Linked DNA regions of Homo sapiens. The protein of the gene in region 1 purifies or fractionates together with the protein of each later gene. This does not show direct contact. Each region holds a gene or a part of one and is shown in the gene's direction. Other genes may lie near its edges.

Region 1 (5,566 bases):
GGTGGTTGCTGTTACTGGGGCATTAAACCCTCGCCGCTGGAGCGCGCGTCTGCGCGTGTCCGCGTGTGAAAAGGAGCCGGGAATCGTGGGGCCATTCATAACCTGCTTGAGCTGTCCTCGGCAGGCCGGGGGGAGGTGCGCGCTTCCAGGGACTCTCCCGGTGTTTACTACGTCGTGCCTGAGAAACCAGGCGGGGGCGGGGGGAGGCAGGGAGCAAAAATTCACCTCTGTGCCCTAGGATGAAGGGGAGACCACGGGCTGGATTGGGAAGCAGATGGGAACTTTCTCTTCCTGGCGCTGCTCCACCCCTTACCCGCCCCCCACCTCCTGGCTTCTCCTCGAGTATCGTCAGTGTTTTGATGGAAAAATCATTTAGGTGTACATTATTGGAGTGGAAAAACCACTTAGATGTGCTCACTTTAATCCCCTGTGGACTTTCTCTGTAGGTCTCTGCCTGGGAAATTCGTATGCACCGATGTACAAGCACGTGCATTGCAGCATTCGCTCGCTCCTCAGTGTTATGTGCCTAGACGTGTCATTTCTCATTATGCAGATTCCAGAGACATTGCATGCTTATGGCTGGGAGTTTGGCCCCTCTGCAAGATGAGGGGGCAGAGAGAAGAAAGAGGAAATCGTCCCAGGCAGCTTTGGAAGGGTTCTTAGTGGACGGTGCTGCGGTCTGGCTTGTGTGAATGACTTTCTAAAATGGCGGCCAGGACCCACTTTATGTGGGAATCAGCAGAGCCGATCTCAGAATGCACAGAGGGAGGAGGGGGCGGAGGATTCGAGCTGCCTTGGAAAGCGGCAGTCTGGAGGAACATTACTGTATTAAAAACGGCTTAGCTGGCAGTTTGCTCACGACTGCATTCAAAGGAGTATCTTACCTATTGCAGAGTAAAAGCAGATGCTACTGATAAAAGCAGGTTATTTTAAAACTAAGCAGATCATGTGTCCCTGAAATTCTTTTATTTTAAAGGTTTTTTTTTTTCATTTTTAAACAAATCTATTTAGTTGTTTAAATAGACAGTACATTTTTATGGGTTCAAAGCATGTGAAAGGTATACAGAGAAAAATCTCCACCCCTGACCCTGGAATTCCCAGTTGCCACACTTCCTCCCCTCACCCCCCAAAATCCAGGTAATGTCTATTTCTGGTTTCTTGTTTATCTTTCTGCATGTACAAGAAATGTTCCTGCTGATCCAGCTGTGGAGCTAAGTGGACCTTGTTTGGAGGAACTCAAGGCCTTTTATCCCTATTGTGGGATATATTTTGTAAAATGTGTGATTGCTACTAGGAGTAAAAGTGAAATCTGAATAATTTAAGTGAAAGGAATAAAAAGGTAGTTGTACCAGAACGATGGCTCTGCAAGAAAATGAAATGGTATTCACTTCTGGTGTCTTGTACAAATCAGAATGAGAAAAACCATGCAATACCTATATTAAAACTGAACTTTAAGTGCCTACTCTTATCCTTTTCCCTAGCTGATTACATTAATAACTGTTTTACAGGATTAAGAGGTGTACACTGGGAATACATTATATAAAACGTTTTCAAGATGAATGTTCTCTTAACAGTGATTAGGCTTTTGTAGTAAGTGTTTGCATTTTACAAAAAGATTAAACCAGACAGCTTTGGGGACAGCTTAGAGACATTTTAACAGAAAAAAGAGGTCAGTCAGTTCTTTAAAAATTTTTATATTTATTTTTAAATTTACATTCTGATTAGTTTTGTTTGTTTGTTTGTTTTTAAATGGACAGTAGATTGAGGGGTGGATGGCGATTTGGCTTTTTCCTCCCCAGTGCCAAAGAAAGACCAAATCCTTAAAACATAATCAGAACATTTACAAAAATTGGCTTTTCTTTTCTTGCAATAATAATAAATCTGTTGTTATTTTTACAGTTTTCAGTTTGCGGATTTAAAAAAATTAAATGAGAACTATTTCTGAATCGGGTTTTAGTTAACAAAGATTCATTACAGGGACACAATAGAGAAAGTCCTTTCCTTTGTATGTTAGCTGGGTTGAAGGGGGAAGGGAGGAGTTATACAATTGGTTCCTGTCTTTTAGTTATGAGAGGGAGAGAGGTGTCTGCAAAGGCGACTCCTTGAATTAGAATGAGCAAATGAATAAAACCCTTAAAATATTTAACATCTTTATCTTTTCAGATTTTAAGTAAGTTGCGAATTTAGTTCTTCCCATCCATCTCCAGTTTTAGAGACTAGGTTAAAGATTATGCGGAGGTAAACTGAGGTAGCCCCTCGTGTAAAAATATTGTTAAAGAGGCTGGGTGCGGTGGCTCACGCTTATAATCCCAGCACTTTGGGAGGCCGAGGCGGGCGGGTCACGAAGTCAAGAGTTCAAGACCAGCTTGGTGAACATGGTAAAACCCCGTCTCTACTAAAATACAAAAAATTAGCCAGGTGTGGTGGTGTGCATCTGTAGATCCAGCTACTTGGGAGGCTGAGGCAGGGGAATTGCTTGAACCTGGGAGGCGGAGGTTTCAGTGAGCTGAGATCGTGCCACTGCACTCTAGCCTGGGGGACAGAGCAAGACTCCGTCTGGGGAAAAAAAAAGAATGAGACCCATTTAAAAATGTAATTTGTTTTTGCTGATTTAAAATGTTTGATCACAGTGGTTTTCCTGAGTTAAATAGATGGAATAGCTATTACATTTTATGTATATTCAGATATCTTTACCTCTGGGACACAATATAAAATATTGAATTTCCTTTTCCTGACTACTAGGGATATTTTTAGACTTAAACAAATTTGACTCACTGTAGCCTGTATCATTGTTACGTCGCTTCTTCATTTGAGACCAGAAGGTTTCTATGAAACCACTTCTTGTCTATGGCCATACCACCCATACCACCCCCATCCCGTCTATGAAACCACCTCTGGTTTTGAATATTCTGATTTCCAATATCTATTTGCATGATAGGCTTTTGCACATTTTAAAAATAAAACAAAAAATTCAGAGTTATCTTAAAACATTAAAAATTACACAGAATAATTATAAAGCAATACAGAATAATACAGAAAAATTATACAGAATAATTATACAAAATAATAAAAAATAATAAAATGGGTTTTATTTCCCAAAAGGAACGCCCCTGGCAGATTGGAGGAAAATATAGGGCTCACTGCCAGGAAGAATGATAGTGTTTCGCTTGTGTGGAGGGCACCTTTTTCTAACTACCTTTGTTGCAGACTCGTGATTGCTGGGATTGTATTGTGTGGTATACTTATGAAGAGGTTTCAGGCTTGATTTATGGGACATTTTAAATCCTGTAAACACTAATCCTTTGGGAAAATTTATGTAGGAGGTTTTTCCAAATAGTCTTTCAAGTTTCCCTTTCCCCCTAGTTTGAAATTTTACTGAAATTTTTAAAAAATTGAAAATATTCCATGAAAACCAGCATATCCAATTGGAGACTATATATTTCTTTGCTTTTATTAATCGACTGACTGATTGATTGAGACAGAGTCACCCAAGATGGATCACGGCTCAATGCAGCCTTGACCTCCCAAGCTCAAGTGATCCTCCCACCTCAGCCTGCAAAGTAGCTAGAACCACAGGTATGTGCCACCACACTCGACTAATTTTTTATAGGGATGGAAGGTCTCCCTATGTTGCCCAGCCCTGGTCTTGAACTCCTGGGCTCAAGTGATCCTCCCACCTTGGCCTCCCAGAGTGCTGGGATTATAGGCATGAGCCAGCTTGCCCAGCCTTTGCTTTTATTTTTATTTTCATTATTTTTTTATTTTTATTTTTATTCATTTTTTTGAGATGGAGTCTCACTCTGTCACCCAGGCTAGAGTGCAGTGGCAGGATCCTGGCTCACTGCAACCTCCTCCTGGGTTCAAGCACTTCTTGTGCCATAGCCTCCTGAGTAGCTGGGACTACAGGCCCGTGCCACCATGCCTGGCTAATTTTTGTATTTTTAGTAGAGACAGGGTGTCACTGTGTTGGCCAGGCTGGTCTTGAACTCCTGACCTCAGGCGACCCACCTGCCTTAGCCTCCCAAAGTGCTGGGATTACAGGTGTGAGCCACTGTGCTGGCCTATTTTTATTTTTATTTTTATTTTTTGAGGTAGAGTCTTGCTCTGTCACCCAGGCTGGAGTGCAGTGGCTTGATCTCAGCTCACTGCAACCTCCTCCTCCTGGGTTCAAGCGATTCTCCTGCCTCAGCCTCCTGAATAGCTGGGATTATAGGCGCACACCACCATGTCTGGCTAATTTTTGTATTTTTTTTTTTTTGAGACGGAGTCTCACTCTGTCACCCAGGCTGGGCTGGAGTGCAGTGGCATGGTCTCAGCTCACTGCAACCTCTGCCTTCCCGGTTCAAGTGATTCTCCCGCTTTAGCCTCCCGAGTAGCTGGGATTACAGGCACTTGCCACCACACCAGGCTAATTTTTGTATTTTTAGTAGAGACGGGGTTTCACTATGTCGGCCAGGCTGGTCTCACTCCTGATCTCGTGATTTGTGCGCCTCGGCCTCCCAAAGTGCTGGGATTACAAGCATGAGGCACTGCGCCTGGCCTAATTTTTGTATTTTTATTAGAGTTGGGGTTTCACCATGTTGGCCAGGCTGGTCTTGAACTCCTGACCTCGAGTGATCTGCCTGCCTCTGCCTCCCAAAGTGCTGGGATTACAGGCGCCAGCCACCATGCCCGGCCTGCTTGCTTTTATTTTTAAAACATTTTTAGTGTTAGTTTGAGCTGTAGTTAACCATCCACAGTATTTAGAGTAAATAATGTAGTCTGAAAATACCTTGAGTGTATATATTCATTAAATTGGGCTCCTGAATTGTGTTATTAGATGATTTGAAATAAGTGCTGTTCAGCCCCTTGAAACACATATATTAGCCTGCTGAACAAGGAGACTAAATAAAGTACATTTATCTGTAGTTAAATTAACAATCTTCTTTACTATTTGGTTTAAATTTTTCTTTAAACTTATTATTTTTACTTGCCTTACAGCTACACATATTTTGAATGAAAATAGTGTACTCCTCTGTGGAAACCAATTAGAATGTTAATCATTTTATTAGAAAGCATGTAGTTTTTTTTTGTTTGTTTTTGAGACGGAGTTTCGCTCCTGTTGCCCAGGCTGGAGTGCAATGGTGCTATCTCGGCTCACCGCGACCTCTGCCTCCCAGGTTCAAGCAATTCTGCCTCAGCCTCCCAAGTAGCTGGGATTACAGGCATGCACCACCACACCCAGCTAATTTTGTGTTTTTAGTAGAGACGGGGTTTCTCTGTGTTGAGGCTGGTCTCGAACTCTTAACCTCAGGTGATCTGCCCACCTCGGCCTCCCAAAGTGCTGGGATTATAGGTGTGAGCCACCGCGACCGGCCAAAACCATGTAATTTTTATGTGATATCTAGCTGGTTTTTAGTGTGTGGAAATATGCTTTGCAGTGAGTGAAAAGATTTTTTGGATATAATTTTAAAGTATCTCAATATTCAGATTGTTCTCCCTACATGTATTCCTGTCTGCCAAGTTGAAGATTACAAGCATCTAAAAAAACCATAGTGGAATGGCTCTATAAAATCCTAACTTAAAT
Region 2 (3,500 bases), on another chromosome or scaffold:
TTCTTCTTTCCTTCTCATCCTGTAGCGAATCTTTCTGTCTCTCTGACCATCTCTTCTGGTTTTCTAAAATTCAAAGATTTTGAACACTTTGGAGAAAATCAAAGAACATCTAAAGCCATTTAATTTGAATTGTTTATTTTATTGGCACTAGATGTAAACAGCTTTTTGTTCAAGGCTAAGATTCTTTTAATTCTCCTTTTTTTTTCTTGGTAAGGTCATAGGAGAGCACAGTGTTTAATCAAGGCTTCAACAATAAAAGACTAGATTTAATTTGAAAACCCAGAGAGTTCGAATTTATTCAATTCAGGTTTGCACCTAGGGTTCACTAAATCAGGTCTTGTTCATGGTACAAGGGATATAGCACCTATATGTGAATGAGACACACAAGGTCCTTTTGTGGAGCTTTTAACCTCTTTCTGAAATTTGTCTGTACTGTACCTCTGACAAAGTCCTTAGGGTGTTTTCATATATAGGCTTTATGTTTTAGGATTTTTAAATTAACATTTTGTTCTTTTTTTTTTTTTTTTGAGATGGAGTCTCGCTCTGTTGCCCAGGCTGGAGTGCAGTGGTGCAATCTGGGCTCACTGCAAGCTCCACCTCCCAGGTTCACGCCATTCTCCCACCTCAGCCTCCCAAGTAGCTGGGACTACAGGTACCCGCCACCACGCCCGGCTAATTTTGTTTTTGTATTTTTATTAGAGACGGGGTTTCACTGTGTTAGCCAGGATGGCCTCGATCTCCTGACCTCGTGATTGCCTGCCTCGGCCTCCCAAAGTGCTGGGATTATGGGCATGAGCCACCACACCCAGCCTAACATTTTATTCCTTATAGCCTTTAGTTATATGTAAAAAGTAGATTCACATAATAAATACAGCTGTAATTACTTAGTGGATCATATTACTGAATAATTTCTGGACCCTAGCAGCCAAACCATAAAAGTGTTACTTACAGTTGAATAAACATTTACTAAATCTTGCAGTGGGTAAAGCACTGTGTTGTAACAGCATGGGTGATACAGAAATGGATCAAACATTGTTCCTGCTCTCAAGGAATTTATAATCCTGGTGGGAAAAGTGAGCATTTGCACAAGCACCTCTACCAGGAGGTGCTTTAGTAGATGTACAGTGTACATAACAGTTTGTCTTTGGTTCCTGTTCCTGCTATGGTGACTTAGGGGAGGGGGTTGGTAGGTGCAAATTTGACTTCCTGAAGTTATTCCTCTATGCAGAAAATAAAGTTGTTTGACTTTCTCCCCAATTTTGGCCTTGAGCTACTTCCTGGACTTATTACCCCAAACTTTCATTATTTCTTCCTTAAAATATCCCATTATTTAAATTGACTGCAGTTAGCTCCTAGGTGCTTCTACATGAAGATTCGATACTTAAAGGCAGACTTTAAGTATTTAACACAGACTTAAAGACTTTAACACAGACTTAAAGACTTCAACACAGACTTAAAGGCAATGGTGGACCCTTAAAGACAAGGGTAGCTGTGAAGGGAAACACCACTGAGTTCTCACCCTGCACCTGCTCCTCTCCACCCTACTGTAGAACACAGTGCCTTGCCCATTGCAAGAATTTAGTGAATGTTTGTTCAACTGTAAGTAACACTATTATGGTTTGGCTGCTAGGGTCCAGAAATTATTTAGTAATATGGTCCACTAAGTAATGACAACTGTATTTAACTCCACACCACTGTGGAGAGGGGTAGGTACAGGGTGAGAACTCAGCAGTGTTTCCCTTTTCAGCCAACCCTGGAACAATATGGATTTGAACTGCATAGGTTCACTTATACATGGATTTTTTCCCAAAACAACTTGGATCAAAAATACTACACTTGCTAGATGTGAAATCTGTATATACATAAGGCTGATAGGACTAATTCAGTTTGGTTTAATATAGTTCAGATGCATTATTCTGGCCTTAGGAGCTCTGCCTGCTTAACTTTCTTAGGATGATGAATGTAACTTATGCCAAAATTGAGTAATGAGTAATGGCTTCACTGTGGTTTTTCCTAATTTGCTGTTTTAAAATTTTAGTTGGCCGGGCGCGGTGGCTCACACCTGTAATCTCAGCACTTTGGGAGGCCGAGGCGGGCAGATCACGAGGTCAGGAGATAGAGACCATCCTGGCTAACATGGTGAAACCCCATCTCTACTAAAAATACAAAAAAGTAGCCGGGTGTGGTGGCGGGCACCTGTAGTCCCAACTACTCTGGAGGCTGAGGCAGGAGAATGGCGTGAACCCAGGAGGCGGAGCTTGCAGTGAGCTGAGATCGCGCCACTGCACTCCAGCCTGGGCGACAGAGCGAGACTCCATCTCAAAAAGAAAATAATAATAATAAAATAAAATAAAACAAAATTTTAGTCACTTAAGTCTCATTGACTGATTATTAACCAGTCTAAGTATTTTAAATATTTGTAAGTAATTAGTCTGCTGTGTGAATGGCTTGAGTAGTCATTAAAGTGGAATGTTGATTTTATTTATTTATTGGAAACATTTCTATTTTTGTTGAACTCTCCTTCCTTTGTAGTTGAAATATTACGGCGGCCTTTGTTTATTTGGCTCTTTAATTTGGTCCCACACAAAAGGGACCAAACTTGAGAGTGCTGCTATTAAACAGGGGACCTGTTGGATCCGGTTAGATCTGAGGCCATGGTCAAACAAGTGAATCCCATGTATACCCAAGCCCCTTGCTGAAGACCTGGAACTCGTTTCTAAAGTCACAGACAACAACCCCTAAACATGGCCCATCATAATCGCAGTGTGTTAGCTGGGGATCAGACAAACTTATTCATTCCCTTTACCAGTCGTGGGAACACTGGATGGCATCAGCAGATGTCCATTTAGGACCCAGCCTTTCACGAGGGCAGAGCATTCATATAAACATTCTTCTCTCTCCTCCTCAGTAGTCGTGGAAATAACCATGGATAAGTCACCTGACCAGGGTTTAAATCCTGGGGATTTGGTAGTTTAAAAAGGTCCATTTTTACTGCCTTAATAGTCCTGTGAGTAGAGCAGGTTTTTATTTAACCACTCTGGATCTGTTTCCTTTTTTTTTTTTTTTTTTTTTTAAATTGAGACAGAGTCTTGCTGTGTCACCCAGGCTGGAGTGCAATGGCACAATCTCGGTTCACTGCAACCTCCACCTCCCAGGATCAAGCAATTCTCCTGCCTCAGCCTCCCAAGTAGCTGGGATTACAGGCGTCCACCACCACGCCTGGCTAATTTTTGTATTTTTAGTAGAGACAGGGTTTCACCATGTTGCCCAGGCTGGTCTTGAACTCCTGACCTCAAGTGATCCACCCACCTCAGCCTCCCAAAGTGCTGAGATTAGAGGCATGAGCCACTGCGCCCAGCCCTGTTTACTATTTTTTAACATCTTTATTGCGTTATAATTCACATACTATGCAATTCGCCATTTAAAGTATACAATTAAATGGCTTTTAGTGTATTCACAAAATTGTAAATCCATTACCACAATCAATGTTGGAACATTTT

Evidence for each region. The genes of interacting proteins can lie anywhere in the genome.
Region 2: the proteins of SPEN (region 1) and BPGM fractionate together in Homo sapiens (co-fractionation; one large-scale study listed by BioGRID). This does not show direct contact.

What each region holds. Positions count from the first base shown.
Region 1 is NC_000001.11:15,849,424-15,854,989, forward strand, and holds part of SPEN (msx2-interacting protein), read left to right. Parts: intron 1-5,566. UniProt on the Homo sapiens protein: May serve as a nuclear matrix platform that organizes and integrates transcriptional responses. In osteoblasts, supports transcription activation: synergizes with RUNX2 to enhance FGFR2-mediated activation of the osteocalcin FGF-responsive element (OCFRE).
Region 2 is NC_000007.14:134,670,853-134,674,352, forward strand, and holds part of BPGM (bisphosphoglycerate mutase), read left to right. Parts: intron 1-3,500. UniProt on the Homo sapiens protein: Plays a major role in regulating hemoglobin oxygen affinity by controlling the levels of its allosteric effector 2,3-bisphosphoglycerate (2,3-BPG). Also exhibits mutase (EC 5.4.2.11) activity.